4 linked regions of the Homo sapiens genome follow. The protein of the gene in region 2 interacts with the protein of the main gene of each other region in a pairwise test. Each region holds a gene or a part of one and is shown on either strand. Other genes may lie near its edges.

What was found.
Region 1: the proteins of PNMA2 (region 2) and TOP3B interact in binary tests that used the Homo sapiens proteins (3 or more experiments, as listed by UniProt).
Region 3: the proteins of PNMA2 (region 2) and TTLL10 interact in binary tests that used the Homo sapiens proteins (3 or more experiments, as listed by UniProt).
Region 4: the proteins of PNMA2 (region 2) and HAPLN2 interact in binary tests that used the Homo sapiens proteins (3 or more experiments, as listed by UniProt).

The regions. Positions count from the first base shown.
Region 1 is NC_000022.11:21,964,835-21,973,414, reverse strand, and holds part of TOP3B (DNA topoisomerase 3-beta-1), read left to right. Parts: intron 1-696; coding exon 697-803; intron 804-1,463; coding exon 1,464-1,538; intron 1,539-2,353; exon of another isoform or gene 2,354-2,435; intron 2,436-3,008; coding exon 3,009-3,205; intron 3,206-4,639; coding exon 4,640-4,796; intron 4,797-5,698; coding exon 5,699-5,812; intron 5,813-8,039; coding exon 8,040-8,130; intron 8,131-8,580. UniProt on the Homo sapiens protein: Releases the supercoiling and torsional tension of DNA introduced during the DNA replication and transcription by transiently cleaving and rejoining one strand of the DNA duplex.
Region 2 is NC_000008.11:26,509,938-26,519,444, forward strand, and holds the start of PNMA2 (paraneoplastic antigen Ma2), read right to left. Parts: upstream 3,936-9,507; 5' UTR 3,879-3,935; exon of another isoform or gene 2,891-3,878; intron 1-2,890. Other genes in the region: DPYSL2 (dihydropyrimidinase-related protein 2), read left to right, coding at 4,389-4,742.
Region 3 is NC_000001.11:1,168,877-1,177,659, reverse strand, and holds the start of TTLL10 (inactive polyglycylase TTLL10), read right to left. Parts: upstream 3,781-8,783; 5' UTR 3,734-3,780; exon of another isoform or gene 3,376-3,733; 5' UTR 3,341-3,375; coding exon of another isoform or gene 3,339-3,340; exon of another isoform or gene 3,237-3,338; coding exon of another isoform or gene 3,171-3,236; exon of another isoform or gene 1,244-3,170; intron 1-1,243. UniProt on the Homo sapiens protein: Inactive polyglycylase.
Region 4 is NC_000001.11:156,622,415-156,626,225, reverse strand, and holds the end of HAPLN2 (hyaluronan and proteoglycan link protein 2 precursor), read right to left. Parts: intron 2,760-3,811; coding exon of another isoform or gene 2,736-2,759; coding exon 2,651-2,735; intron 2,420-2,650; coding exon 2,066-2,419; coding exon of another isoform or gene 2,062-2,065; exon of another isoform or gene 1,929-2,061; intron 1,876-1,928; coding exon 1,759-1,875; intron 1,626-1,758; coding exon 1,443-1,625; intron 1,126-1,442; coding exon 842-1,125; 3' UTR 501-841; downstream 1-500. UniProt on the Homo sapiens protein: Mediates a firm binding of versican V2 to hyaluronic acid. May play a pivotal role in the formation of the hyaluronan-associated matrix in the central nervous system (CNS) which facilitates neuronal conduction and general structural stabilization.

The sequences.
Region 1 (8,580 bases), on a different chromosome or scaffold from region 2:
CACCTGTAGTCTTGGGAGGCTGAGGTGGGAAGATGGACTGAGGCTGGGAGGTCGAGACTGCAGTTAGCCGTGATCGTATCACTGTACTTCATCCTGGGTGATAGAGCGAGACCCCTGTCTCAGAAAAAAAAAGAAATGGGGCCTAAAAGAAAGCCAGACAGCTGAGCATGCAAGAACCGGGTCTCTGTAGATGAGTAGGTGAATGTGCTGGGCATGAGGCTCAAAAAGATGGTCCTTTAACAGGAACGACTGCACACATGTGTGCCCCCACAGAGTGCTGGGTGGAAGGACAAAGTTCCAGAAACTCAGGTTGGAAGTGTCAATGAAGGCACCATTGTGGGGTCCAGTGCTCAGGCAAAGAGACCCAGCCCAGGAATGGTGCTCCCAGCCACAGGGAAAGTCCCGGAAGTGAGGCCAGAGTGGCAGCCCCCCGAGAGCTTGCTTGGCTCCTGTGGTTGGCCGGGGTGTGGTGGGTCCGCTCAGCAGCCGAGCAGAAAGGAGGCTGGATGGGAGGGGGTTACCAAAGGCCTGAACCCACATCCTGGCTCTGCCTCTGATCATCAGGATGACCCTGGGCAAATTGTTCTCCAAGCTTTCCCCTCCTCATTTGTGGGATGAGGCCAACATCCTCCTGGGGTTATGATGGTCTCGGAGGCTGAGCTCCTGTGACTCAATGTCACTGTGACTGGTTTGTAGGAAAATACAACAAATGGGACAAAGTGGACCCCGCAGAACTGTTCAGCCAAGCTCCCACGGAGAAGAAAGAAGCTAACCCCAAGCTGAACATGGTGAAGTTCCTGCAGGTGCGTGGGGCTGGCCTGGGCATGAGCACACCGGGGCTCCCCACCCTCCACAGCTGCCATGTCTTTGCCCACCCTTGCTTGAGTCCTAATCCCCCTTGGACAGGGGGGCCTTTGCTAGCTTTTTCTGTGAGTGCCCCCTGCTGGCCCACGAGGCACCTGCAGGCACCCCCAACACACAAGGCAGTTGCCATTGCCAACCCTCAGTCCTGGAGAGCAGGCCTTCTGCTTTTAAAATAGCTTGTTTGGTCGGGGGGTTTTTCTCCTTAATTTTAAAACAAATGCATACAGATTATGGAAAATTAGAAAGTGCAGATAAGTAGAAAGACAGAAAAATTATGCATAATCATATTACCCAAGACGACTGCTGTTATCATTTAGGGTTATTTCATTTTAACCCTTCTTCTGGGCAGTTTTGGGGTATAAGATCATGTTGCATTTATACTTTTTTTTTTGGTCCAAAAAACATCAATTATAAACTCAATTCTTTTCTGTTGGCTGAGCCAGCCTCAACACAGCCAGCTCCTTACCCAGCCCAGGTACCAGTCCTCCTAACTGAGGTTCAGGGCCTGGGACCAAGCCCTGTCCTGGATGGGAGCACTGGGGGCGGGTGGCACAGACCGGGTCTGCAGCAGGTACGTGTGAACCTGTGCTGTGTGGCAGGTGGAGGGCAGAGGCTGCGACTACATCGTGCTGTGGCTGGACTGCGACAAGGAGGGGGAGAACATCTGCTTTGAGGTGAGTGTGAGGCTCACTTTGTTCCTCACTTTTGGCCTTTCTGACACCAGCCCCAAACTGACACCAGCAGTCAGTCACATCACTCCTGGGGCCAAAGGAGGGAGTAAACTGTACCGGTTTAAAAACACCTCTCCCCTCCCTTTATTCTGAAACTCCACAGATACTTTTAACTGCATAGGCTCTATTAAAGGTGGTCAGTTGTTCCTCCGCTTGCTGAGGCCTCAACGGTATGAGTGAACATAGGAGGGGCCAAATTGTCTGGGTGGATGCAGGTTTCAGAATGGGATTGTCTTGGGGCAGCTTGGTGTTCAGCATCTTGTGCCCAGCGTGACTTCTCAGGGACCTTGGGTTGATGCTGGTTGATTCCCGACCTCAGCACTGAGCTCCTTTTGCAGGCCTCGCTCTGCTCATCTCCTGCCTCATCCAGGATGCCTCCTGCCTCCAGCCAACCCTGGGAGCCCTGCAGAGAAGCAGGTGGCAGCTGCTCCCTGTGCACACCCCATGCCCCATGCTTGCCCCGGCCATGGTGCCCTCACAGTGGCCATGACTGCTGGTCTCACTTGGTGCCCTTCAGACTGTTGTTCTATGGGTCGCCCCCGTGCTCCTGTACCCCCAGCTCTCACCCGTGGCTCAAGAGCTGGTCAGTGAGACAGAGCTGAGGCACCTGGCGTTGCAGTACAGCACCCTCAGCAAATGCGATCACACTCTGTCTCTTCCCAGATACCCTCTCCTCCCCTGCAGGGCGGCTCCTCCCTGGGGGCCTTTGCATCTGGGAATGGAGAATGGGGGCAGCTCATGGGGCTTTCTCCCTTCAGAAATGAAGCCACTTATTCCCAGTAAGGAAGCTGCGTGGCCAGGCTCCGGCGGCGACCCTAGTCCCACTGCACGGCCTTCCTAGTGAGTCTCGGCTCCAGGACCCCTGCTGTGCTTTAGCCCGAGCTGCCCCCACCACAAGCTAGGACCACCCGTGGCCTTCCTGCTCTTGCCCATTTCCTTTCCCCTTCATTCTTTTTTCCTTCCCTGTCTTTTCTTCAGCCTCTTAAAATTTCCACCCACCCCTCCAAACCCTCCCTCCTAGAAGGCAGGGAATCGTGTCACATGGGATGGGTTTGGGGACTAAGAGGTCCCTCATGTACTTGGCAGTAGCATTTCCTGATTTGGTGGGGATGAAAGCAGAGGATTAGAAGAGAGGGCGGGAGTAAGAAGGGAGTGTTCGAGTATGTTTCTAGATGGGAGTAAAGGAAGCCATGTGGTGGGGTGTTGTGGAGTGCTCAGGGCTTCTGGAAAGGCAGGGGGATAGAGGAGGGTCTGGCAGGTGCAGGAAAGGGGATAGAGGAGGGTCTGGCAGGGGCAGGAGAGGGAGCCGAGCACACGTGTTCTTTCCTGGAAGGAACCAGGCTTCACAGTGGGGTGGGGAGCTGTGGCAGGGATCTGGGAGGTGGGTCACAGCTGGCCACTCCCCACCCCCAGGTTCTTGATGCTGTTCTGCCCGTCATGAACAAGGCCCATGGTGGCGAGAAGACCGTGTTCCGGGCCAGGTTTAGCTCCATCACGGACACAGACATCTGTAATGCCATGGCCTGCCTAGGCGAGCCTGACCACAACGAGGCGCTCTCAGTGGATGCTCGCCAGGAGCTGGACCTGCGAATCGGCTGTGCATTCACCAGGTGCTGGCCACACCCGCAGAGTCCTGGGCACACCCTCACTCTCCCTCAGCCAGAGACCTGCCTCTACTGGTCCCCCTCCGGGGCCCCTAGGCCTCCTCGAGCCAGGATGAGCAACAGGGGATTTCACCAACCCTGAAGAAGGCCAGGCACAGTGGCTAACACCTGTAATCCCTGCACTTTGGGAGACCAGGATAGGAGGATTGCTTGAGGTTGGCAGTTTGAGACCAGCCTGGGCAGCATAACAAGACCCCATCTCTACAAAAAAAAAAAAAAAAAAAATTATTTTTTTGAGACAGAGTCTTGTTCTGTTGCCTAGGCTGGAATGCAGTGGTACAATCTCAGCTCACTGCAACCTCTGCCTCCCAGGCTCAAGAGATCCTCCTACCTGAGCCTTCCACTACAGGTGCTACAGGTGTGCACCACTATGCCTGGCTAATTTTTATGCATTTTGTAGAGACAGGGTTTTACTGTATTGCCCAGGCTGGTCTCAAACTCCTGAGCTCAAGCAATCTGCCCACCTTGGCTTCCCAAAGTGCTGGGATTACACATGTGAGCCACTGCGCCCAGGCTAAACAAAAATTTATTTATTTTTTTGTTTGTTTGTTTTTTGAGACAGAGTCTTACTCTGTCATCCAGGCTGGAGTGCAGTGGCACAATCTCAGCTCACTGCAACCTCTGCCTCCTGGGTTCAAGTGATTCTCATGCCTCAGCCTCCCAACTAGCTGGGATTACAGGCTCCTGCCACCACTCCCGGCTAATTTTTATACTTTTAGTAGAGACGGGGTTTCACCATGTTGGCCAGGCTGGTCTCGAACTCCTGACCTCAGGTGATCCGCCCACCTCAGCTTCCCAAAATGCTGGGATTACAGGTATGAGCCACTGTGCCTGTCCAAACATTTTGTTTTAATTAGCTGGGTGTGGTGGTGTGAGCCTGTAGTCCCAGTTACTTGGGAGGCTGAGGTGGGAGGATCACTTGAGCCCAGGAGTTCAAGGCTGCAATGATCTGTGAATCCCCATTAATGCACTCCTGCTGGGCAATACAGCAAGACCCTGTCTCTACAAAAACAAAAGAGACCTAAAGAAAATTGTTTATTTAGCTGACAGAGATCACATATGCCCTGCTTGATAAAGTGTGTTTGTCTGTGCTCTGGGGGTCCTGAGGAGAGTGTGCAGTAGATGGAATAGAATAGAAGGCTCCCTGGCCTGAGACAGTAGAAACCTCTGTCTCCTCTCTCACTGGCTCTGTCACCCATGTACACACATGAATCCTCCCTAAGGCTATGCCCACTCTGCTCCCACTGGCTTCTAAGTGGGGACACCACCTGATGCCACCTCCTTCATGCACCACCCCTGGCCTTGGGCTGGACTCACATGGGTGGCCATAATAGTGTCTTGAGTGAATCAGTGACCAAAATATCTTTCCACTCCCTCCAGGTTTCAGACTAAATATTTCCAGGGGAAATACGGTGATTTAGACAGCTCTCTCATCTCCTTTGGGCCGTGTCAGACTCCAACCCTGGGATTCTGTGTGGAGAGACATGATAAAATCCAGTCCTTCAAACCAGAGACCTACTGGGTGCTGCAGGCCAAGGTTCCTTGCCTTTCTCTATTCATGCTGGGGCTTTCTGGGTTTGGGGCATGGATTCTGAGAGTCTTCCATCATCATCAGCCGGCAGGCCCCGGGCTGAGGGCAGAAGTGTGGACGGCTGTACCTGGAAGTGGTCTGTGGTGCCTAGGGCTGAGGGACCCCAGCCTTCATGGGGGCAGTGGGAAGAGACTGGGCCTGTATATGCTGAATCTGGATAAGTGGGAATGAGTTCAGCTCTGGCAGTGCAGGGTGAGGTCACCCCACAGGAATCAGTGGCTTCAGTGGTCAGGTCCAAGCACTGGACTGAGACCATTGGCTTTCAAACTTTTTAAAATTCCTAGAACCCTTTCTTCAAATAAAAGCCTCCACAGAAGCTCACTGTAAGACTTAATACAGCTAGGCACAGTGACTGATGTCTGTAATCCCAACAACCTGGGAGGCTGAGGCAAGAGGATTGCTTGAGGCCAGGAGTCCAAGGCTACAGTGAGCTACGATCGTGCCACTGCACTCCAGCCTAGCAACACAGTGAGACACTGTCTTGGAGCTGCTGTGGCTGACACGGGGCTTGGGACCCTGGCGGTGGCCATACCTACCACTGGCCAGGCACTGGGGATAGGCAGGGGTGGTGTGAGAAGTAGGGGCTCAGGTGCTTCTTAGGGACACATCAGCCTCAGCTTTGGGCCACCTTCCTGAGACTGGCTGCCTGGTTTTGGGGCAAGTGGTGGAGAGGGCCAGATGTCAGCTTGCGTATCTGCCCACCTGAACAGGTACAGCTGTGAGCCATTACAGCCAGGGCTATTTGGCTCCCAGACAAGGACCAGCTTCATCTGTCCTGGTTCTTCCTGGCGTTGGGCTCACCTGGAGACTTTTTCTTGTGCGTTCACCCTTTATCCTTTTTCCTGCAGGTTAACACTGACAAAGACAGATCTCTCCTTTTGGACTGGGACCGAGTAAGAGTGTTTGACCGGGAGATCGCACAGATGTTTTTAAACATGACAAAGCTGGAGAAGGAAGCCCAGGTGTGCCTGCTCCACCCACATCTATCACAGTTGCCTTGGGTGAGGGTGGCCCTTGGATGCCTCCCGCTGGAGGAACAGCCTGTGATCCTAGTCCACGTCTTTCTCCCCCTTTCTGAAACACAGACATCTTTTTGGAAAGCTGAATGGTTACTCCCTCATATACTCCTAAGATATTTCTGCCCAGTGCAATAGTCACAGTGTACTGCATGCCCGCTCCATACCAGGCACTGTCCACACCTGTGACCTTGTCGGACCCCTTCCACTCTCCCCTTTCCACGTGACCCGCTAGGCATTACCTCCGTGTGGCAGGACTCCATTTCACACAGAGATTCAAACTAACAACTGTAGAGGGACCTTGGTGCACACTGATGAACTTGCCCAAGGTCACAGCTAGCAGGGGAAAGTCTTGAGATTCCAATTGCAATCAGCTTGCGTGCTTTTATGGGATTATGTTTCTTACTCAGGGCTTCTATGAATTGAAAGGACATGCTGCTTGGCTGTTAGGAAAACGGTGAGGTGACCTGGCTGCATGGGTTGGGGACACATCTGTGGCTATTGAAGTAAACATGCTACAGGCATGACAGCTACCAGATCCGTCGAGACACAGCCTGGCCTCCTTAGCCGCCTTCTCCTTGTCCTTCTCTGGCCTTCCTTGAGTGCCCTGTTGCCCGCCATGCTATCGTCTCAGGCATCTGAAACTTCTAAAGCTGCTCCAGGCTGTCAGCATTGATCACATTCCTGCAGAGACACTGTTGCCACCTCCAGGCCTCACGCTGGGGAGCCCAGCTTCACATAACAACTGGCCTCTGTTAGCACCCACATCTGTCTGTCTGGAATGCAGAAGGCACTGCCCTGACCAGCCTACGTGGGATTGGCAAGGGCCAGGGCCTGGGGTTGAGTTGTTTGGATTGTTTTTGCCATAGGCAAAACAAAGAGTTGTCTCTTCCGACAAGTGTTCAGCAGAGGTAGAGAGTGGCAGGACCCCAACAAAGCACAGCTCATAGATGCACTCCACTAACCTGCATGGTGTTTACACAAATTCCAGAATAGTTACCAGCACTTAAAAATTACGAGATTTCATACTAAAATTCTGCCTTCTAGCTTCTCTTGAAAAATCAGAAGAGGTAGCAATACTAGCAGGTGCAGGCAGCAGCCCTCCCCACAACAAGGAGTGGTACTTCCCCTGGGACGGGCCCCACTTGCCATCCCTGTAGCTTGGCTGATGCTGGCTTCTGTAGGATTTCCATCTGCAGCCCTTCTGACTCCTCCTCAATCTTCCAGGTTTTCTCTTTCCCTAGAAAATTCTCCAGAAAAGAATATTCAATCACTTGAGGCCAGGAGTTTGAGACCAGCCTGGACAACACAGGGAGACCCTGTCTCTGAAAAAAATAATTTAAAAAGTAGACGGGCATGGTGGCACGTGCCTGTAATCCTAGCACTTTGAGAAGCTGAGGCGAGAGGATTACTTGAGGCCAGGAGTTCATTTAAGACTAGCCTGGGCAACATAGCAAGACCCTGTCTGTACAAGAAATTGAAAAAAAAAATTGGTCAGACATGATGGTGTGTGCCTGTGGTTTCAGCTACACAGGAGGCTGAGGCAGGAGGATCACTTGTCCCAGGAGTTCAGGGCTACAGTAAGCTCTGATGGTGCCACTGCACTCCAGCCTGGGCGACAGAGCAGGACCCTGTCTCTTAAAAAAAACAAAATTTGGTTTTTTGTTTGTTTGTTTGTTTGTTTTGAGATGGAGTCTTGCTCTGTCACCCAGGCTGGATTACAATGGCGTGGTCTCAGCTCACTGCAACCTTCACCTCCCAGGTTCAAGCAATTCTGCCTCAGCGTCACGAGTAGCTTGGATTACAGGCACGTTCCACCATGCCCAGCTAATGTTTGTATTTTTAGTAGAGACGGGGTTTCACCATCTTGGTCAAGCTGGTCTCGAACTCCTGACCTCAGGTGATCCACCCGCCTCAGCCTCCCAAAGTACTGGGATTACAGGCGTGAGCCACCACACCCAGCCAAAATTTTTTTTTAAAAAAGAATTTTCATTCTTTTTCCTTTCCTGGTCCTGAATAAATATTCAATCAAGTCTTTAGACTGTTGGGAAGAATGAATTGGAGAAACAGGGAGACCAGATGAATGAAACCAGACCCTTCGTCCACACATCTTGATTCCCTCTATGGTGGTGTCTTCCTCCTTCCCCAAATCATTGACTGTCCTGTCTTCCAGGTGGAGGCCACAAGCAGGAAAGAAAAGGCCAAGCAGAGGCCCCTGGCCCTGAACACTGTGGAGATGCTGCGTGTGGCCAGCTCTTCTCTGGGTATGTAGGGACATTTCTCTCAAGTCACCAGAAGGCTTCCTGAGGCAGGTTCAGCCTGGAGCAGCGAGTGCCCAGGGTTGCAGGATGGTGCCCAAGGCTTCAAGGGGATCTGAGCCTCAGGAGGATTTCACTTATCCTTAGGTTGTAAAGGTGGTAAAGTTGGTCACCACCTGAGGGGACCTCCTGATGTTAGAGTCCCTGAGCAGCTATCCCTGGTGAGGGGAGAGGCCCCAGCCAGATGTCACCTTCAGGGAACCAGTGTGAACGTCGCCCCTCAGCCTCATCTCCTCAGTCTTTTCTCCTTAGTAACGAGGAGGGGGTTGGGCTGGAAAGCTGGTGGTCTCTGGCAGCTGTCAGCCCCTAGGCATTGGTGCCCCCCACCCCCGCAGGGAACTATGGGCAGTGTCCTCTCAGTGGACACTGAGTGGTGGCTCCAGCGTCCTCAGAGGG
Region 2 (9,507 bases):
TGTGTCTGGAAGGCTTTGCAAACACACATTTGGGCTTTGCTTTTGCTATGAATGGTAAGTGAAATAGTTTGAAGGTTTGTCCCCTCCAAATCTCATGCTGAAATGTGATCCCCAGTGTTGGAGGTGGGGCCTGGTGGGATGTGTTTGGGTCATGAGAGTGGATCCCTTATGAATGGCTTGGTGCCATTCTTGGGGTAATGAGTGGGTTCTTGTTCTATTAGCTTCCTCGAGATCTGATTGTTAAAAACAGACTGCCACCTCCCTCCCCTCACTCTTGCTCCCTTTCTTGCCGCATCTGCTCCCTCTTTGCTTTCTGCTATGACTGGAAGCTTCCTGAGGGGTCACCAGATGCAGATGTCAGCACCATACTTCTTGTACAGCCTGCAGAACTGTGACCCAAATAAACCTCTTTTCTTTATAAATTATCCAGCCTCAGGTATTCCTTTATAGCAACACAAAATAGACTAAGACAATAAGTTACTAACACAACACTCTCCAAGCATTTGTTTCTGTTTCTGTTTTTTGAGACAGGGTCTCACTCTGTTGCCGAGGCTGGAATGCAGTGGTGTAAACACGGCTCACTGTAGTAGCCTTGATCTCTCCTGGGCTCAAGCAATCCTCCCACCTCGACCTCCTGAGTACCTGGGACCACAGGCACATGCCACCATGCCTGGCTAGTTTTTTAAATTTTGTGTAGAGACGCAGTCTCCTTACGTTGTTCAGCCTGGTCTCAAACTCCTGGGCTCAAGCAATCCTCCCGCCACAGCCTCTCACAGTGCTGAATTACACACTTGAATCACCACACCCAGCCTTTCCTAACATTTGAACTTTAACCCATCATTTGAGAAAAAAGAAAAAAGGAGGAAGCACACCTATCAAGGATTTTGTTCTGGAGAACCTGTGAGGATTAGAGAACGTAAAAAAGTTAGAGTTGGCCAGGCGTGGTGACTCATGCCTGTAATCCCAGCACTTTGGGAAGCCAAGGCGGGTAGATCACTGAGGTCAGGAATTCGAAACCAGCCTGGCCAACATGGCCAAACCCCGTCTCTACCAAAAATACAAAAATTATCTGGGTGTGGTGGCACGTGCCTGTAATCCCAGCTACTTGGGAGGCTGAGGCAGGAGAATCGCTTAAACCTGGGAGACGGAAGTTGCAGTGAGCCACGATTGCACCACTGCACTCTAACCTGAGTAACAGAGCAAGACTCTGTCTCAAAAAAAAAAAAAAAAAAAGTTAGAGTTCCTAATACCTCCCAGTTACTGCTGCGGAGTGTGTGTTAAGGGGCTACAACCATTTCCCCCTTGGCCTAAACATCTTCATCAATTCGAATGGGGGCCATACGCCACAGTGCTGTCCTGTAACTCTATCAGCAGTGCTCCTGCTGTGGGAAGATCTCCTGAGTCTTCTGGGAAGTGCTGAAGGCACCAGGGGTGCCAGAGAGCCAGGAGGGCAAAATGCTGCTTCACCCCTGTGCCCAGGAGCCCCAGAGACCTGAGACTGCTGACTTCTCCATGCCTGACTTTTCCTTTCTAAAATGTGGGGACTGTGGGGGAGGGCCAGGTGCAGTGGCTTACACCTGTAAACCCAGCACTTTGGGAGGCCAAAGCGGGAGGATCACTTGAGCCCAGGAGTTTGAGACCAGCAACATAGTGCGACCCTGTCTCTACAAAAAGGAAAAATAAAAAAATTAGCTGGGCGTGTGGCACTCGCCTGTAGTCCCAACTACTTGGGAGGCTGAGGAGGGAGGACTGCTTGAGCCGAGTGGGTCAAGGCTACAGTGAGTTGCGTTTGCACCATTGCATTCCAGCCTGGGTGACAGTGTGAGACTCTGTCTGAAAACAAAAACAAAAATAAAAAAACCAGCTGGGGGCAACCTTCCTCCCCACTGGGATATTTAGAGGAAACAGGGAATGTAAAAAGACACTGCCCAGGAAAAAGCATCTCTATGGTCTACAGAATGACTGCTATGCTGAAGTTAGGCTATCTTCAGATGACTCTTCCTCCCAGTGTGACCTGCAGTGTTACCTTCAAATAAAAACATGGCAAGAAACACCCTTGATATACAATAGGGCCATGGATGGAAATATCTGGATACGGTAGAAATAGAAGAACCTTGTATTTTCTCACATAAAGGGGGTCACAGGACAAGCTGGAAAAGAAGCCAGACTTTGAGGTGGAAGACTCCCACTGGAATTGCTGGATCATTTAACTAAATACCCAACCTTGGCTATGCGCCCCAAGCTCTCTAAATCTGTTTCCTAACCTGGAAAGCAGTGCTGATAAGGCACGCATCTCACAGTGGGGCTGTGAGTAGGAAATGATGTAATTCAGTTGGAAGCGCTTTTTTCAAATGCTTTATTCAAATGCAAAGCACATCTGCCGCTAAGTCCAAAATGCCCCCTCCGGTTCTCTCAGCCCCTCCACTCCTATATTCTTCTTCCCCAGTCTGTTTCTCATCCGGAGACGCCTTTCCACCTATCAAGATGGGCTGATCTTCAAATTGCGACTGATTGTCCAGCAGATGTAACTATATTCACCAAACTATCTCTCACAATTGGACTGTGGGGGTGGTTGGTAACCGCATTTAATCCTGGGCTGACAATGGGACTGGATCCCTGGTTACACGGCCCTACGCGGTGGCCCTGCGGTAAACGGCCTCTCAGCCCAAACCCACCCTGGTTACTGAGCATGCCCAGAACTCCCTCCCGGGCCACCAAAGGAGGGGCACCATTTCTGCAGGATTTTGCCACTGTGGAAAGAGAGGCGGAGCTGTCATCGCGCAGAGGCAGGGACTGATACGCGGAAAGGACGTGGAGATGGGAATAAGCAATGAAGGACCAGCATTGACCGTGTTAGGCACACAAATCTAATTGCCCCCTGGTTACTTACCAACCCGGTGGCCGTGGCTCAGCTACTGCACACACACACCAAGTTCCTACACACCTTTCCCCTGCTTGGCCCCACACAATTCATGGCACTCACAGCCCACATCCTACCTCCTACTCCGCACCAGATGCGCACCCGCACTTACTCCCCAAACACGTGGCATCTGGTAACCCGGGAAACGCTGCGACTGTGGCGCAGTGCGCAACAGGGGCGGGGGAACCAGGCGGGGCTCTGGGGCGCAGGGGAAAGCTGGAGATTTGGGAAGGGGGTTTCAGTTTGTTTTTTCTCTCTTTTTTTTTTTTTTTTTTTTTTTTTGGTGGAGGAAGCAGAATAAACCAAATCGCGACACGTTCCTGCGCCCTTCTTGGCGCAGTGGCGCAGACACGGTCCATGGCGCCTTGCGCAATAGAGTCGGTCTGCACCCCGTCTTTAAGTCGTGGCCCTGGGCTGGAATTCCCGACTGCACTCTTTGCTACACCCCCATAGACCGCAGACCTGCGTCTCTCTCTATATTCCTCTCCCATCTGCTACGCCCCTCTGAATTTCTTCCCGCCATGTTGTGTGCCCCCCCCCCACTCCCCCGTCACCCCAACCACACCAAAGTGGATGCACGAAGCGGGAACCTTCTCGTTTCAGTCTCTGCTCCCTGCAGCCTGCCAAGGCGAGTGGACAAACTGAAGCTGGGGTGTCCAGCGTCTTGGCTGCCCCCCTCCTGTCCACCCTGCCTGTGCTATCCTTGCTCATCTTCAGTGCCATCCCGCTTCCCACACCCTGAGTAGCCTGGCGCCCGGCTTGTCCCCTTTTCCCATCCATCAGCTCACACCCAGGGTAACGGGGCGGGACCCCTATCCACAGTGCGCCCTCGCCCCCGGCCCACCTCCGCCATGCGGCGGGGCAGAGGCGCCTGGGCCAGGCAGGTGGAGGAGAGGGGCACTGGGGCTGGGGGCTGCGTCCTCCGGTCCTCACTCCGCGTGCCCTGCCCGATACTTACCCAGGCGCGGAGAGCGGTCAGCGGGCCCTCCGCTCCGCATCCATTAGCTGGTGGTCTGGCCGCTTCACTTCCGGAGCGCGGGGCTAGGGGCGGTGCCGCCCTCCCCTCTCTCTCTCCTTCCCTCCCCTCCAGCCCTCCCCTGAGCACCGCTCCCCTCCCCGGCGCCGCGCCCCGCCCGCGCCTCCCTCCTCCCAGCGCTGCCGGGAACTGGCAGCCTTTCGGCTCCCGCAGCCGCAGCGGACGCCCTCCCAGATCCAACTTTGCCGCTTCCCCGAGCTCGCGCTGTAGCCGCGGGGGGCGTGGGCAGGGAGGGGAGAAGCGGGGTCAGGGGGAGGGACCGGGAGGGTGGGTCGCCGGCTCGCCAGCCCTCCTTCCTTTCTGTGCACCTTGCGGTGGGCGGCGAACGGCAGCCGCGGCAGCAGCTAGGGGGCTTGTGCACACAGCGAGGGAGACTTAGGGACTGGCAGACGGACGGACGGACGGCGAGGACCCTACCCGAGCCCCCGAGCCATGGCCGAGAGAAAGCAATCCGGGAAGGCGGCAGAGGACGAAGAGGTCCCTGCTTTTTTTAAAAACCTGGGCTCCGGCAGCCCCAAGCCCCGGCAGAAATTCTGTGGCATGTTCTGCCCGGTGGAAGGGTCCTCGGAGAACAAGACCATCGACTTCGACTCGCTGTCGGTGGGCCGGGGCTCGGGGCAGGTGGTGGCTCAGCAGCGGGACGTCGCCCACTTGGGCCCGGACCCGCAGCCGCCGTACTCGCGGCAGGGCCGGCGCGCCGGCGGAGAGCCATCTGTTGAATCGGGCCGGAAGGTGGAGATCCGGAGGGCCTCGGGCAAAGAAGCCCTGCAGAACATCAACGACCAGGTCGGTGTGGGGGTTGGGGGTGGAGACGGAGGACGGGGCGCGGGGATCGCCCCTCCCTCGCCCCTGAGCCCGGCGCGCCCGCCTTCATGCCCCGCCCTGGACCTCGCCTCCCGCATCTGCACGCGCACCCCGCCCTACCCGCCCCTTCTCCGCGCAGGGTGCGGCGAGGCTCGGGCTGGGCGGTGGGCGGCCGTGCGCCCACAAAGGCTGCCCGCGTCTCCTTGAGCTTGAGAGGTGGGGCGTGGGCATAGGGAATGGGCTGATCCCCTGCTGGGGCGGGCGGTGGTCGTCTGGGAGGGGGTTGGCCGCGGTTCCATTCTTCTGAAACCCTCCCGGGCGGCTTCCGATTGCAGCTGCGGCTGGGTGCCCCACCCTTTTTTTGAGCGGCTCAGAGCGTGCGGTGGAGGCTTTGCGTGAAGGCCCGCGGCTCCCCGGTGGTCGGGAGGGGCGGGGGTTCGGACGGCCGCTCCCTACAGCCTCCGCCCGCGCCTTCTGCGCTCACGTCCCGAGCTCCGAGGCCAGGACCATGGTCAGCGCCCCCCGGACCCCCTCCGAGCACCGCACCGCCCTTGACTCCTGCTCGCAGCGTGAGAAGAGCCAGGAAGGCTGTGGAGTCACCCGAGGAAACCGAGACGCTCCTAAATAGCCTATGTGGGGAACAAAGTTCCAATAAGTGTCTCAGCCGGGGCTTCACAGAGCGCTCCCCAAACCGCTATGTGGGAGGCGCTTTAGGAAGCGGGGAACTAAGTGGATTATGTTCAAAGGGTCAAAAAGACAAGAAAAGGGGGAAAACCCCTCGCACTCGAAATAGACTGTCGAAGAAGACTAAACCCCCTTTTATTGTGTTAATGGGGGAAACAAAGGCCAATTTGGTCACGCTTGATTTTAGAAAATGTTTGTCACTTTCTGACAAATATGAACAGTGAGCATTTTCAGCGCAGTAATAATCTCACACCACAATTCTTTCTTTATCTGAGTGATCCTTACACTAGTGTAATTCTTTTCCACAGCCTTAATTTCTTAACTGATAATTTACAATGCAAAATGTTTTAACACGTTTTCCGTTTCTCTCCCATGCCTGCTGGTAAAAATAATAAGTCAATCAATGAATGATTGTTGATTGAATACCTATTGTGCGCCTTGCCTTGTAGGGCAGAGGGAAGGTTAGTTATAGAAAGTGCAAGAGGTTTCTTCTTCTCAGAGGGCTTCCAGAGTAGTTGGGAGTGGTCTATACATATTCAGCGAGGGATTCCACAAGCATTTACATTTGTGTACTTACAGTGACAGCCTTTGAGAACAATTCAGAATTGGTGATGATGGTTGGGGCATGATTTGACTGTTTGCTGATGTGACATAGAGTTTTGCAGCTTTTGACTTTTGTAGGGTCAAGTCTAGGAAAAACAAGGCATTTGCTGTCATTTGTAAAAGGTGACACAACTAATAATTTATATCCAACCCCAGCCCTGCCCTCTAATTTATTCATATAAGGGAGTGTCTCATATCCATATTTCACTATGAGTCAACCAGAAGAAACTAAATCCAAAAAACTTGCTTTGTTCCAAGTGATCAGACAATTGAAGTAAAAGTTTCTAATAATGTAACTTATACTGAAAGCTGAGTGAGTGTGTGTGAAACACTTCCCTGTGTGAGTACATTGAGTGAGGGCCAAAATCATATAGCATCTTGGTTGAGTGAGTAGCCTCATGCATGGCGAGTTGTGCTGGTGATTGTGATGTCCTAGAGAAAGCAGAAAAACAACTGGAGAATAAAGAAGAAATCATGTAAAAAGTGGCAGATCAGAGGATAGGGGTTGAAAGTGGCCCACCCCTATCATGAATTAGAACTCAAGTTTGAAAGGCATAGTTTTATCGGGTTGAATAACACTTCTTTTTTCTTGGCCATTTAGAAGCTTAGATATATGAAATTCTAAATTGTAAAACTAAGGCACGCAGAGGGGGAGATTTGAAGAGAAAATACTCAAACAAACTGCAAGGGAGTTTTAGATTGCAATTCACATTGATTTCAGTTGCCCAGTTATTAGTAACAGAGGGCGATTCTAGCTTGGCCTTTCTGCAGCACCTTCCCCTGAATTTTCATGTTTAATCTTGCCTTATCATATAAGGCCTACTCAATGAGATTTTGTCATTCACGACTAAGAGCATTTACCTGGATCAGTACTTGCAATGTTTCAATATTTCATGTCTTTAGAAAAGGGGAAAGGCTGTGGCTATACATGTGTTTATATTTATAACAATGTGACTTCCGAAAAGCTCAACTGGCCCACCATTTTGACTGAGTTGACTTGTCATTAGTTGGTTTTCAACGAATGAGTTGGGTGAGTGCCAGCATCTCTGTGCATTCTAATTGGAAGCCCTGACGCAGAGAAAGGTGGGGGAGATTGAGAATGGGTGGATCCTGGGACCCTGACTCACACCATCCCTCCTCTCTTGCAGCTTTATTTATGTGTTACTAATGTATGGTCAGATGTGGCTTTGCTCATCTGTTGCACTAAGAGGCCTGCTGTTCCCCTAACAAGGCTTTGGGAAGGGAGAGAATAGGCTTCCTTGACCCACATGCCACATGGCTCATGGAAGATGAGAGATGTTGGACATGTGCATTTGCAGGAACTAAATGAAATTATATTCAGAGTATGAGCCAGACAGCACCAGAAAGCGATGGGTGTGGCTTGACTCGGCATGTCAGATTTTGGCGGAGGAAAAGAGCTGGCATAGTGGTTGTGAATGAGGAAAGCCTCTATCTTGTTACTCTCTTTTTCCTATAAGTCCACTTTGGGCTTCAGTGAGGTTACATTGATCACCACTGTGAAAGACTCTGAGCCTCTTGGAAGAGAGAGAAGAAAGGCATCTCTGTTGGCCCAATCCCCCCTTGTCAGTGCCCAGGGGTCCTTCAGCCTCTTCCCTTCCTCCTAGGAACTTCCTCCATTCCACTCCAGACACAGCGTAGCCAGAACCAGTGGCTCCACCAGCAATACTGGACCATAAGAATGCTTTTCAAAGGGGCCTCTAGGCCCTTTTCCCAGCAGCAAACAACCTATGCAGGCTGGAGTGACAGGGAGTGATTCTCCTCCTCTCCAGGGCAGGTGCCGCTGAATGAACTGCACAGTGCTGCTGAGCTTGGCAATGTTACTGAGTCTGTGAAGTGCTTTCTGGTGCTCCCTTCCATCTGGGTCCCCATCCCTTCTGCCTGTGTTGAATCTCTTCTGGCCCTGGGAGCCCAGTGCTGTGCTGCCCTCTAACTGTACAACGTCATCCCTACTCCATCCCCATAGCATGCCCCTTCTAGACCTTTCTTCTTCCAAAGGGCAACAGGTTCTAAAATCAGTCTTGGCTTCCCTTCTCCCATTCAGAATTCTTAACTTGCATTAATCTTAGTTAAAGAGAAATTCCAATGATTAAAGCCATCTGCTCCTCAGGCAAACAACTGATGCCCAAGTTGTCCCCAGAGATCCGTGTCTGATAATAGACTAGCCTGTTAAACAAAACGAATGTGTGGTTAGTGGGGTGTGTGGTGGAGATTTGGAATAAAGGCAATACCTTGATACTTTACAGGTCATATTGGTTCAAAACAGGAGATACAAGCATTTGTGTGTTCAGGATTCCAAAAAACCTAAGACCCACCCGGGTTCAAAAGGAGGAAAGTGGGGGTGGGGGATAATTGGAGAGGGGAAGGAAAGGATGAAAATCCATAATTATTATTTGCTCTTGATTTCCCAGCTGGTTATTGAACTAATCATATAATTAGTTAAATTAAAATAATTTTTACATAGCCTAAAATTTGCCACCTTACCCATTTTTAAGTGCAGCTCAGTGGTGTTAAGTGTATTCACATTGTTATGCAACCAATCTCCAGAACTTTTTCATCCCCCAAAGCTGAAGTTCTGTACCCATTAAACACCAACTTCTCATTCCACCTCTTCCCAGCCCCTGGCAACCACCATTCTCTTTTCTGTCTCTGCCAGCTTGACTACTCTAGACTCCTCATATAAGTGAAATGACACCGTTTATGTTCTTTGCGACTGGCTTACTTTACTTAGCATAATGCCCTTAAGGTTCATCTGTGTTGTAACATGTGACAGAATTTCCTTCCTTTTTATGGCTGAATAATATTTCTATAATTAGTTAAATTATAACAAGTCTTTAATGATTTAAAAAGTTGCTATTCAATTAATTGGCCTGCAATAATTAATTGTGGCAGGAAATAAGAAGGATTAGATTTGGGATGAAATAGGCTTCCCCAGGTCTGGGGCCTATAACCTAACTAGAAGAAAACTCCTACCAGCTAACCAGCATCTACCATCTTTCTCCTTGGAGCTCAAGGATAGAGAGGAGAATTGCTGTCATTGGACCGCCAGTGACAACTTCTGGCCATGACCTTTGCATATTGCATATGCAATGTTATGTGGTTCACAAACTCATGGCTCTATACCATGGAAATCAGGGTGAGGCTGGGGAGTTTTTCCAGCCTGGTAAAGACAGGCCACGTATTCCAGGGTCCTTTGATGCAAGCATCCCTCTTTACTTTCTTGAGCAAGAAGGGGAAGTCAGAATTGATTATAGATTCAAATGTGTACTATCATTGAATGTCAGAGCTTGCAAGAGACCTAATGATTGTTTAATTACCTCATTCTAGAAGTGAAGAAAGTGATGTCCTGAAAACTACTTCATTCCTTGGAGCCCAGGTGATAGTCCCAGGACTGGGAGAGAGGTCTCTTGTTTTCAGTCCCACTGCAGTCCTCTATCAGTAA
Region 3 (8,783 bases), on a different chromosome or scaffold from region 2:
AGGCATCATCAGAGGGACTCCCAAGTGTGAAGAAGAGTGACACAAGGACAGCCGGGCGCGGAGGCTCACGCCTGTAATCCCAGCACTGTGGGAGGCTGAGGCGGGCAGATCATGAGGTCAGGAGATTGAGACCATCCTGGCTAATATGATGAAACCTTGTCTCTACTAAAAATGCAAAAAATTAGCCGGGCATGGTGTTGGGCGCCTGTAGTCCCAGCTCCTTGAGGGGCTGAGGCAGGAGAATAGCTTGAACCTGGGAGGTGGAGCTTGCAGTGAGCTGAGATCGTGCCACTGCACTCCAGCCTGGGCGACAGAGCGAGACTCCGTCTCAAAAAAAAAAAGAATGACACACAGACACATTTACACACACACACGCACAGACACACAGCTACACACAGACACACACAGACATGTCGACACTTGCACAGATGCACAGACACACCTACACACACAGACACATGGATGCACAGACACACCTACAGACATGCACACACACACCTATAAACATGCACAGACACACCTACAGACACCTACACACAGACACGTCTACACACACACGTACACACAGACACACACACAGACACCCACACACACACACAGACACCCACACACACAGACGCTGACACACACAGACACGCAGACATGTAGACACACAGACACACAGACGCACACAGAGGAAGAGAAAAGGGGAGAAACAGGGAAACAAACCAGCCTGGAAAAGGCTGGGGTGATGGAGACAGGACCCCTCAGAGAGCCGCGTGCTTTTAAAGCAAAGGCACAGAGAATACAAAAGAGCCGGTGGGAATTAAAAATGCAACACCGGGGTTGGGATTTAAGTCAAGGAAACTGCCCAGAAGGGAACCCTGGGGATGGGACTGTGGGTGTAAATCCGAGGTGCCGCACAGCAGGGTCACCGTGGAGCCCCAGGCGAGAGGGGAGGCCCGGGGAGATACAGGCACAGAGCCGGAGGAAGGAGGTGTGGTCCTGGCCAGCCCTGGGTGCCCACCGAGGCCACTAGCAGCCCTCCAGCCTTCCTGGGGACACACAGGGCTGGAACCGGCCCAGGAGGCTCCCAGCCGGGAATTCCAGGAATTCCATACCTGGCCTACCAGGTGTGGAGGTGGGAAAAGGTGTGGAGGTGGGAAAAGGTGAGGAGACATCCGTCCCTCCGGGAAGCCTGGAAGACTCTCACAGGAGTGAGCTGTCAGGGAAAAGATGCAGCAGCTGTGAGCTTGCAGCTGACCTGATGACTGTGTGCCCCAGCCTCTCCAGCTGTACAGCGTCAGCCTCTCTCCAGCTGCACAGCGTCAGCCTCTCTCCACCTGCACAGTGTCAGCCTCTCTCCACCTGCACAGCGGCTGGGAGCAGCAGCCTCTCCACCTGCACAGCGTCAGCCTCTCTCCACCTGCACAGCGTCAGCCTCTCTCCACCTGCACAGCGGCTGGGAGCAGCAGCCTCTCCACCGGCACAGCGGCAGCCTCTCTCCACCTGCACAGCGTCAGCCTCTCTCCACCTGCACAGCGTCAGCCTCTCTCCACCTGCACAGCGGCTGGGAGCAGCAGTCTCTCCACCTGCACAGCGGCAGCCTCTCTCCACCTGCACAGCGTCAGCCTCTCCACCTGCACAGCGTCAGCCTCTCTCCACCTGCACAGTGGCTGGGAGCAGCAGCCTCTCCACCTGCACAGCGTCAGCCTCTTTCCACCTGCACAGCGTCAGCCTCTCTCCACCTGCACAGCGGCTGGGAGCAGCAGCCTCTCCACCGGCACAGCGGCAGCCTCTCTCCACCTGCACGGCAGCAGCCTCTCCACCGGCACAGCGGCAGCCTCTCTCCACCTGCACGGTGGCAGCCTCTCTCCACCTGCACAGCGGCTGGGAGCAGCAGCCTCTCCACCTGCACAACAGCAGCCTCTCTCCACCTGCACAGCAGCTGGGAGCAGCAGCCTCGCAGGGTTGCTGCAAAGATGGAGTTTCCACATGTAATGTCAGGACAGCACCCGCCACACACTGCGCAGTCTGCAGGGCTGTGGTGATGGTGACTGTGGGGGTGACGGGAGGCAGAGAGCTCAGGGACAGCTCAGGATAGGCGGGAACACAAGCACATGTGAAAAGCAAGGCGATCGCCAACTCTGAGGAAAACAAATGGGCACCACCCGGGGAGGCCGGGCAGCTCTGCCCCAAACATCATTCGTGCCGGGATGATATGGACAGGGCAGCGTGTGGAAGACAAGCCCCTTTCACCGTCCACGGGGAATTTCTGCACTGGAAGCTCCAGAAGCAGCAGCATCAGGTGCTTTTTGGAAACAGGCAGTTAGAAAGCGGAAGCACAGCACCCACCCCCCCACCCAGGAAACTGCCTCCGTCTCTTCTGCTGCAGAAGAAGCAGCAGCTGGAAGAGGCAGCCAGGTGCTGATTTCATCGTAAGCCTGAGGCCTCCTTTGGGCTTTTCTAACTTTATGTCCTTATGATGTTCACAAATAACTAAATAAGTTGTGAGCTGTTATTTCTTGTCATTGAAATTAAAGGTGTTTTTTTTTTTAATTTTTTTAGACGAAGTCTCACTCTGTCGCCCAGGCTGGAGTGCAATGGCGCAATCGCGGCTCACTGTAACCTCCGCCTCCCAGGTTCAAACAATTCTCCCGCCTCAGCCTCCTGAGTAGCTGGGATTACAGGCGCCTGCTGCCATGCCCGGCTAATTTTTGTATTTTTAGTAGAGACAGGGTTTCTCCATGTTGACCAGGCTGGTCTCAAACTCCTGACCTCGTGATCCGCCCACCTCGGCCTCCCAAAGTGCTGGGATTACAGGCGTGAGCCACCGCCCCGGACTGAAATCAAAGGTTTCTTAAGCAGCTGCCCGCTGTGTGTGTGGTGAACCCGGGGCCTGAATGCAGGTGGGACGCAGCCTCCCAAGCGCCGGGAGCCGCTGGCTCCTCACGCCTGTCGATCTAGCAAATGTGCTTTGGAGTCTCTGACGGACGCGATTCTGAATCCAGAAGGAAAGCGTCTCACTCCGAGATGCTGACTGACGTGTCCTTTATAGCGGTGGGACTTGGGAAGCCGGTGACGCCCGGTGTGGAGGACGGTTGTGACGCCCCTCGGTGGGGACACGGTGTAAAGGCGGCGTGGAAACTTGGTGCACGACCTTACAATAAATTGTAAAATAAGCGTTTTACCTGGTGAGATGAAAAGACCGGCAGGAGACGGCACCCCGGTAGGATGAACAGAAGAGACTTTTAAACCTGAAGAAATCATCCAAAAAGCGACCACATGTTAGTGTCCTGCTGCGAGTTCTCCCCCCAGAATCCAAGCTTGGCCACGTGGGGCCCTAGGAAGGTACTGACATTGTTCGAAGAGCTGGTGCCTCCCGGCCGGAGGCCGCTGTCAAAGGACGCACGACCTGTGGGCTCAAGCAGCCGTCCGTCCAGGACTTGCTCTGCGGAGGCAGACCTGGTCCCAGGCCACGGAGCTCGTCCCAGGGCTGCCCAGCCCTCCCACCCCACCGGGTACACACACCGTTCCCCGGCCTGGCCTGGACCCGAGCCTCTCGCACGGTGGCGCTGGGGTCCGGGACCCGCAGAGCAGGCTCAGCCTGGCCCCACCCTACCCGATCCCTGTCCAGTCCCCTCCCCAGCCTCCTCCTCTCCTGAGCAGCCTCCCGAGGGGACCCGCAGGCAGGGCGTAGGAGGGCGGGGCCGAGCCCACTGGACCCCAGCTGGTGGCCGCCGGCGCTTCTTACCTGCCCAGCCCACAAGGTCCTGGGAGCCTGGGCCAGGAAACAACAGTGGTGACCTGGCAACCGTCTCCTGGCAACCCCCACCCAGCCGGAACCCAGAGGTGAGCTTGGGTTTTCGGAGGATGGGGAGGGGCTGCTGAGTGGCGGGGCCAGCCCGGGAAGCCGGGCTGAGGGCTGAGGCTGGAGAAGGGCACAGCTTCATGGGCACAGCTGCCTCCCAGTCACTGCTGGGACTGCCTGAGCCTGAGCCCCAGTTGCTGCCCCTCCGCCCGGCCCTCCCAGGATGGTCCCTGAGCCGTCTCTCAGGCCCCACCCATGCTCAGCACCCCAGGACCTGGCCCGGGCCAGGCTCTGCGTGCACCCTGGTGATGTTGGCTGGATACACGGCTGCCGATCCCTGAGCATTCTCTGTGCTTCACGTGGTCGGGTCCCTGTTCTCACTCCACAGCGGACGAGGTGCCACTGTGCCCCCCTCTGCAAACAGGAACCGGGGGCTCCACAAAGTGAGTGCCCCCCAGAGGGGGACTCACATCTATCGGTCCAAACTGCACCTTTCTGTAAGCCCCTCGCTGTGTCACAGACCTCGGCCAAAGTGAAGCATTCCGCAGGGGTTTGGGCCGTGAGGAACAGCCTGCCCGACACCTGACTTGAACACTCTGCGGGGAAAAACACCGAGGAACATCACGATTACCTTCTGCGGGAACAAGGGCCAAACAAACGGCCTCATCCTGAAGCCGTGTGGCCCGGGCCGCTCCCACCCATACCTATAGGCACCCCAGCCCGTAGGCGGCAGTGGGCTCTGGCATCCAGCTGGTCCCCCACCTCTGCAGGTGTTTGCAATGTACCCGTGTTGATGTAAGGCTGCCCTTTCTCCATCTCTGTGTGTCTTTGTTTAACCCTCACATTCTCTCTTTTTTTTTTTTCAAAATACGGAGTCTCACTCTTTTGCCCAGGCTGGAGTGCAATGGTACGGTCTCGGCTCACTGCAACCTCCGCCTCCCAGGATCAAGCAATTCTCCTGCCTCAGCCTCCCGAGTAGCTGGGATTACAGGTGCCCACCACAGTGCCCAGCTAATTTTTGTATTTTTAATATTAATTTTATTTTTTATTTTTATTTTGTTTTATATTTTATATATTTATTATTTTATATATTATTTTCTATATTATTATAATTATTTTATTATTAATTTATTATTAATTTTAGAGGGTTTCATCATGTTGGCCAGGCTGCTCTTGAACTCCTGACCTCAGGTGATCCGCCCGCCTCGGCCTCCCAAAGTGCTGGGATTACAGGCGTGAGTCACTGCGCCTGGCCTGCCCTCGCCTTCTCTTTAAAACACCTAATGATACGAGGTCTGGGAGTCCTGGGCTCCTGGCATGACCCATGGCACGGTCTGATCCCCTCTGCCTCAAACTCTGAGCCTCCAGCCACGTGTCCCCTACCCATCCGTGTCCTTCAGAGCTTTGCGTGGGTCACGAGGGCCTCTGTGCTTAGGGTCCCCTTGCAGGGGGCTGGTGGTGCCCCCAAAAGACAACCACATCATAGCCCTGAAACCTCGAATGTGACCTTATTTAGAAGAAGGGGCTTTGCAGGTGGGGTTACGTCAGGATCTCTAGTGACATCACCCAGGGCAGGCCCTGAATCAATGGCCTCTGCCCCCCTGAGAGGGAGGTGGAGAGAGGAGACGCAGACGTGGGGGAGACGCCGTGGGACTGGGGGGCAGAGATGGGTGACACGGCCACAGCCACTGATGCCTGAGCTGGCAGGGGCTGGGGAGGCAGACAGGGTCCTCTCCTGGAGCCCCCAGAGGGGTGCAGCCCTGCCTGCCCTGTGGCTTTGGAGTTCTGGCCTCCAGATGCGGGCGTAAGCGTCTGTTGTTGTGCCTGCCTGTGTGGTTTTTCAGCAGCCGGGAGGAGAAGCCACCCTTTCGAGAGTGTGGTGCCCGCTCCGGAGCCGCCTCCCCGACCCACGCCGGGGCGGCAGCCTGGGGGTTCCCCGCTCTGTGTCCCTGGGGCCTGAGCTGTGGGGGAAGAAGGGGCCCCGGCTGTCCCTGGGGAGTCCCTGGAAGGAAGAGAGAGCTCTCGGAAGCGGGGCGGTGGGGGGCGTCTCCCACCGTCCTCCTGGTTCTGTCCAGCTGGGAACAGTGTCCTCGTCCCCTCCCCGCACTCCCACCTTGCGCCTGGTGCTCAAGCTTTGAGATGGTCCCGCTGGACCCTGGTGCGGAGCAGACCCAGGAGGCCCCTCTGCCCTCTGGGAGCCTCAGGTCAGGTGGCAGGTGGGGCTGGGGCAGGTCCTGGGCTGAGTGGCTGGGCCTTCGGGGAGCAGGGCCCACTTGGTGGGGGTGACGGGTGGGGGGTTCCTTCGGTGGCTGCTGTGGCTCTCCAGGCTGGGAGCAGCAGATCCGGGTTCGGAAGCTCTGACTCTGGGAAGGGGCCTACGTGTGTCCCCTCCTCCCTGAGGCTGAGGCAGGTGGCCTGACAGGAGCTGATGGGGATGGGAAGGACTCGCCCAGCTCCTCTCCAGAACTGGCCCTTCCGGGAACAGAGCAAGGCAGGGTCCTTGCCCCTGGGCTGGGAGGGAGAGCCCCGTGTTCATCTTTGTGGCGCACCGGCCTTTGGAGGATGTGATCTGGACACACACCTCGGAGGACGGGTTTCCTTGTGTGGGGGGAGAGGGGGTGCAGCGGGCAGGTCCCCCAACCCCTGCAGCCTCCCCTCCCTGGGGCCCCACACAGGCCTGAGGACTCCCCACCGCCCTCAGAAGCCCCCAGGCTCCCCAGCCAGGCACTACCTCGTCCCTCACAGCTTTCCTGAGTTCAAACTTGAAAACTCTGCCCCTTAATCCCAAAATCTGGGTGGTGTGGCAGCCACGGATACCTGTAGCCCCAGCAAGGTTCCTGCGCAGGGCAGGTGGGAGCAGGACCTTGGGCCGTGGGTGTGCCCGGCCCGCGTGTCCAGGTGGGTGCAGCCCCCAGGGCCAGGCAGAATGGGGGAGGCCTGGCACCTCTCGGGCAGTGGGTGGGGTCTCCAGGCAGGCCAGGCCCTGCCACTGGAAGGGAGGTGGCCCCTTTGCCACCAACCTGTGGCTGTCACCGGGGCAGGTGTGGCTGGACCAGGAAGCCCTCCTGGCTGGCGCCTGGCTGCCTCCATCCTGTCCGCAGCCCTCGCTCCTGCTGGCCGGCACCATACGCTCTTGGTCACCTGCTCAGAGAGGCCCCCCAGGGCCACCGGCTGCCCCCTCGGTAGCTCCCTTCAGCACAGGCTGAGGTGTCTCCACTCAGGGACTCCCCCTTCCCCCAGAACCTTGACCTGAGCTGACCACAGGAGAGTCAGGGAAGATTCCTGAGCAAAAGAAGGAGGGAGGGAGGGACGGAGAGAGGAGGAGGAGGGAGGAGGGGGAAGGAGGGATGGAGGAGAGGAAGGAGGAGGGGGAGGGAAAGAGGAGGGAAGGGAGGGAGGGAGCCTCTCCCAGGAACCTTGGGGGCCTCCGGGGCCGGATGCAGTGTCTGGGGTTCTGTCCTCAGCTGGGCCCTTTGCACGGCGGGGGTCTGTGCACGTGTGGTTAAAATAAGGAGCTGGTCCAAGCATGGGTGCGTGAACTGCAGACTTTATTACTATACAAAGACTTTTTTCTGTTTTGTTCCCGGTGCTTATGGAGAGGAGGAGGAGGAGGAGAAACCGCACAGGGAGGCTCTGGGTACGGCCCCGCCAGCCCCAGCAGGGTCCTTCCTGTCACACCCCGTGCAACGCAGCAGGCGCTGTGGAGAGTGAGCCCCACTGCAGTGTGGGGCGCAACTTCATCCGAGGGGTGCTTGGAGGGACTGGCCAGACGGGCACAGCGGTGAGGAGGTGCTGGGATGGGGAAGGTCCCCGAGCTCCGGGCGGTGTTGGATGAGCTCAGGCTCACAGGTGTGGCCCTGCCTGGCCCGAGCTCTCCAGGTGTGTCCAAACCTTGTGTTATATGCACCTTGCAGTCCAGGGCTCACCCGTGCGGTCTGGTGAGGTGGACGCCACATTCTGGGGGTGGCACTCCAAGTTCTTCCCCACACACGTCGCTCAGGCGGCAGCAGCATGGGGGTGGTTTCAGCTGGCCCTGCGGGGGACTGCCCCATCTCCCCAGGGAGGAAAGAGGGTCTGGAGATAGCCCCGGGTGGGGGAGGTCAACCTGCAGATCCCGGCTTGGGGACAGCTCCAGATGACACCTCGTGAGCCGCCTGGGGTGGAGGGGCCCCCAGTGCAGGGCTGCGTGGCCCCAAGCACCTGCCTTCCCTATCCCATGGTCTTGCAGCTGGGCACCGGCCCCGCCCGCCTCAGCCCCAGAGATGGGCCCTGGAGGGAGAGTGTGGTCTGCATCCCACGGCTGGCCCCTGGAGGAGGAGGGCCAGGGCTGGCCCCGGGAACCTCCCAGAGGTCTCTGCGTCCTGCTGCCTGGCCGCTGAGACGCTGTGACATTGTCCCTGCTGGGCATTTGTGCTCCTCCGTGCCCTGGGCTCAGGCACTTTGGGGGGCCCAGCTGCTTCTGTCTCAGCCTCCCCAGGTGGCGAGGGGGCTGGGGCTGTGGGGTGGGGCTCCGGGTATCTGTGACTGTGACCCCAGGGGCCAGGCTGATAGCACGGGGTCCACAGCATCTGCCCGGGGACTACAGCTCGAGGGCCCCAGGAGGCCGGGTGGGCACAGGCCATGGCGAGGGTGGGGCACAAGAGCCCCAGACCCCGGCGGCTTTGCACTGATGGGCTGCGGATGGGCACAGGCCATAGTGAGGGGGGCATGAGAGCCCCAGACCGGGCGGCTTTGCACTGATGAGCTGCAGGGCAGGCAGCTCTCTCCTCTAACGGTGATCAGGCAGCGGATGGACGGTTTTACCAGACAGTATTAGACAGAGGGCCAGGTCTAACCATGTCTGGTAAGACGCCCATCGGCCGGCGGTGGTGTGGGTGGCCTCCGGGTCCTGGGCTGGTGTCTGCGGGGCCTGTGAAGGGAAGGCCCCGGGGGCGGCTCCTGCCACCTCCTGCAGCTGCCCTGATCCCTCCTGGGTCTGCAGAACGAGCCCCCG
Region 4 (3,811 bases), on a different chromosome or scaffold from region 2:
ACGCAAGGTTAATTTCCTGTCAATTCTAGCAACAATATGACTTTCCTATCTTTAACAGTAGTCCCCGCAAACGCTTCAGGGAGGTCTGCAGCCTGCACATTTTGAAATATGTTTAAGTTGTCTTATATTTGTTATCTGGGGCACATAGGGTGGGCCTGGTGGCATGGGGCGCCCCTGGCAGATTTGAACTAATCTTAGGTGAGTGTGCGGCGCCCCCGCGTGGCGCCTGGCGCAACAACATGCTGGGTTCTGCGTGGGTCCTGGGCCAGGCGCCCACTACGTCTCCACTTCTCTCTCTCCCTTGGCCTATTGGTGCCCTCCGGCCGCACTCCCGCTCTTCCGCTGACCCATCCCTTAACAGCAACAGCCCTGCCCCTTACCCTGTCTTAGGTGCTCAGTGGGCACGCAGGATCCCGGGTCATCAGCCCCGACATGAGCGTGCACACACACACACACACACCCCTCCACGCCTCGCAGCTCTTACAGCTCCACCCAACACAAAAGATCCCCAGGTTATTTTATTGCTGTACTCAGAGGTCAGTTAATGCCCCCGGCCGCCTCACCCTCCCCCCGGCGGTGGCTGAGTCCTCTGCTAGGGTTCGCGAACGGCAGCGGGTCCGAGGGTCACCTCTGCATCTCGCCGCCGGAGGCGCCCCCGCCTCCCCTCCCCGCCGCCGGGCCAGCCGGGGTCCGAGGCCCGCAGCCCCCGGCTGGGAAGGCAGGTCTGGAGAGGCCGCTCCGGGTCTGGAGGGAGGGGAGGCTCTCCGGAAAGGGGTGGCGAGAGACCCCCGCCACGACTCCCAAGCTTCTTCGCGCGCGCTGGAGGGGACACGGTGGGCGCCTAATTCTCGGCGTAGCAGTAGGTCCCATAGGCTGCCTGTTGGGGCCTGGGGAAGCCGAAACTGCGCACTCCGGGATCCGGGAGCCCCCCGCAGCGCGGCCTCGGCGTGGTGATTGGGAAGCGCACACTGCCGTCAGCCAGCCAGCCGCCGTCGCACTGGTCTAGCCCCGAAAACTTCCAGGCGGCGTAGAGGTGCCCAACCTTGGCCACCACGGCGCCGCGTCGCCGGCACGCCGCGTGGGCTTCAGACAGCGTCAGCCGCCCGGGCACGAAGAACACTTGGCCTGGGGACCACAGCGGGTCACCGACCGAGGGCAGGGTGGGCGGAGAGGGGCGGCTGACACCCAGGAGGCGGAGTTGGGGTGCGGGACCGCAGAGGTGCTGGATCGAGCTTGGGTAAGAGGAGTTGGGGGATCGAGGCAAAAGTGCAGGGAGGGTTTGGAGAGGTGAGCTGGAGCCTGGGCGGGCGGGCGGGCTGATGGGGGGGCGGTGCCTTGGAGGGACCCGGAGACCCTGCCCTGATCTCAAGCTGAGGTCCACTCCTCGTCCCCCACATTTTTCAGACCCCTCCCCAAGACCCTGCCTTCGTCCCGCGCCTCACCCGCCAGCGCGGAGGTGAAGCAGAAGGCGTCGTAGCGGTCGCGCATCCGGTCGCGGGGTCCGTAGCTGCGGATCCCGGGCCGGCCTCGGCCGCCGCACGGGGCGCGTGCGGTGAGCACAGGGTAGCGCACGGAGCCCTCGAGCAGCCAGCCCGCGTTACACCAGTCCAGACCCTCGGTCCAAGCTGGCGGGAGACGGCGGAGGTCGGGGATAAGAGGCGTCATAGGCAGGAGCCAGACTGAGCTCGCCTGGCGCCCTCTCTCGGGCCCCTGAGACAGCTCCGCGGGGCTTGGGAAGTGCTGGGTTCGGCCGCTCACCCTGGTAGAGCTGGGAGTAGGTGGCCAGGCGTCCGTCCTGCTCCTCGCACGCCTGCTTCGCCTCGTAGTAATTGAACTGGTACCGGCCCCGGCTGGGTTGGTACGGAAACACCACACCTAGGGGGTGGCGGGGATCCTGGGGAGGGCCAGCGGATGGGAGCGGAGGGGGAGGAAGGGCGGCGCGGCCTGGGAGAGGGAGCTGGGGTCCCCAGGGGTGCGGAGGAGATACTGGGAAGGAGCCCTGGGAGACCCAGGCGAGGCGGACCCGCTGCTACACAGGAATGGGGCGGGAGCGGAAGGGCCTCACCCTCCAAGCTCAAGGTCAGCGCCACGCTCTCGTCCTCGATGCCGTTGATGAGCTCGCAGCGGTACCGGCCCTCGTCCTCCAGGCGCACGCCCGCGATGACCAGGGAGGCGTCTAGTCGATGCCCCCTCCGCATCCTGGCGCGCCCTCCCAGGGGCCCATACCCCCGGGCGTGCAGTCCGTTGGTGATGAGGATCAGCGTTTCCCGGAGCTCCCCAGGCTCCACCTTGCTCCAGCGCACCTTGTAGCTGGGAGGCGTGGTGCCCAGGACGCAGGGCAGCGTGGCCGTGGCCCCACGATGAGAGTGAATGACCTCGTGGATGGGGGGCAGGAGGTAGTGGGGGCCCGGGTGGGATGCTGGGCAGAGGGGGCCACAGTGGCAGGAACCCCCAATCCTCACTGCCCCAAGTGCCCATCAGACCCTGCTCCCCAAATGCTTTCTCCAGAGCCCCCCAACCCTCTCCTCCATTGCCTTCTCAGCAATGACTTTCAGTCCCTGGGTACCTGCAACAACTGCCCTTTCCCCTTTCCCCACCCTTGCAGTCTCCCCAAGCCTCCCCCAGATTCTGGCCTGGGCTGGGGTCTTACCTGGGTCTCCTTGGGCTTTGTGGAAGATGGTGAAGGCCCAAAGAAGGAAGCGGCAGAGTGTGGGGAGGGTGAGCCAGCCTGGCATGATGGGGGGTCAGCCCGGCACCGTCTGCAGGGCACAAAGAGTGGGCAGTTCTTAGGACTGGGGCAAAAGGGTGGGGAAGAGCAGGGTTGTGGGTGAACTCCCATCAGAGATCCTAGAAGGGACTGTCCAGCTGGAAGCCACTGGGGCAGAGAAAAGGGGTTGGTGACAAAATGAAGGTGATGAGGGGAAGAAGGCAGTAGCAATCCCCTTCCTCTCCCTCTCTTCCTCTGTCACATCCTCTCAGCCTGCAGGTACTAATTTAGCATCTTCTCTACCTGTCCCCCTCATCACAAGTGCTACTTCCCAAGCTTGCCATCTGGACTGCCAGCTCGTCTCTATCCTCTCCCAACACCCATTCTCCATCTTGAAGCCAGAGTCAAAATGATCTTATCACTCTCCTGCTTTTTTATTTTATTTATTTATTTATTTATTTATTTATTTATTTATTTATTTTTTTGAGACAGAGTGTTGCTCCATGGTCCAGGCTGGAGTCCCGTGGCATGATCATGGCTCACTGCAGCCCCTAACTTCCAGCTCCAGGTGATCCTCCCATTTCAGCCTCCTGAGTAGCTGGAACTACAGACATGTGCCACCACACCCAGCTAATTGTTTCTTTTTAAGTTTTTAGTAGAGACAAGGTCATGCTGTGTTGACAAGGCTGGTGCTGGGATTACAGCAGGCGTGAGCCACCGTGCCTGGCCTTGTCACTCTCCTGCTTGAAAGTGACTCCCAGTTGCCCTGAGGATAAAATCCAATCTCATAACCACAGCTTCCAAGGCTGTCTATAATCCAGTTGCTCCCTGCACCTCCAGCATGGTCCCCGCCTCGCCTCTTAACCACTTTGGCCTCTGCACTGTTCCCCTGACATGCTGGATTTCTGGCAGTTTCCCACACAGTCCAAGTTTGCATTCATTTCCTTTCCTTTGTGCCTGCATTGGTCGCACAGGCCTCACCTCCTTTGGGAAACCTTTACCCACCCCCAGTTTGCCACACTGTAGTGCACTGTGATCTGCTGGACTGCGGACCTTTTTTTTTTTGAGACAGGGTTTTACTCTCTCGCCCAGACTGGAGTGCAG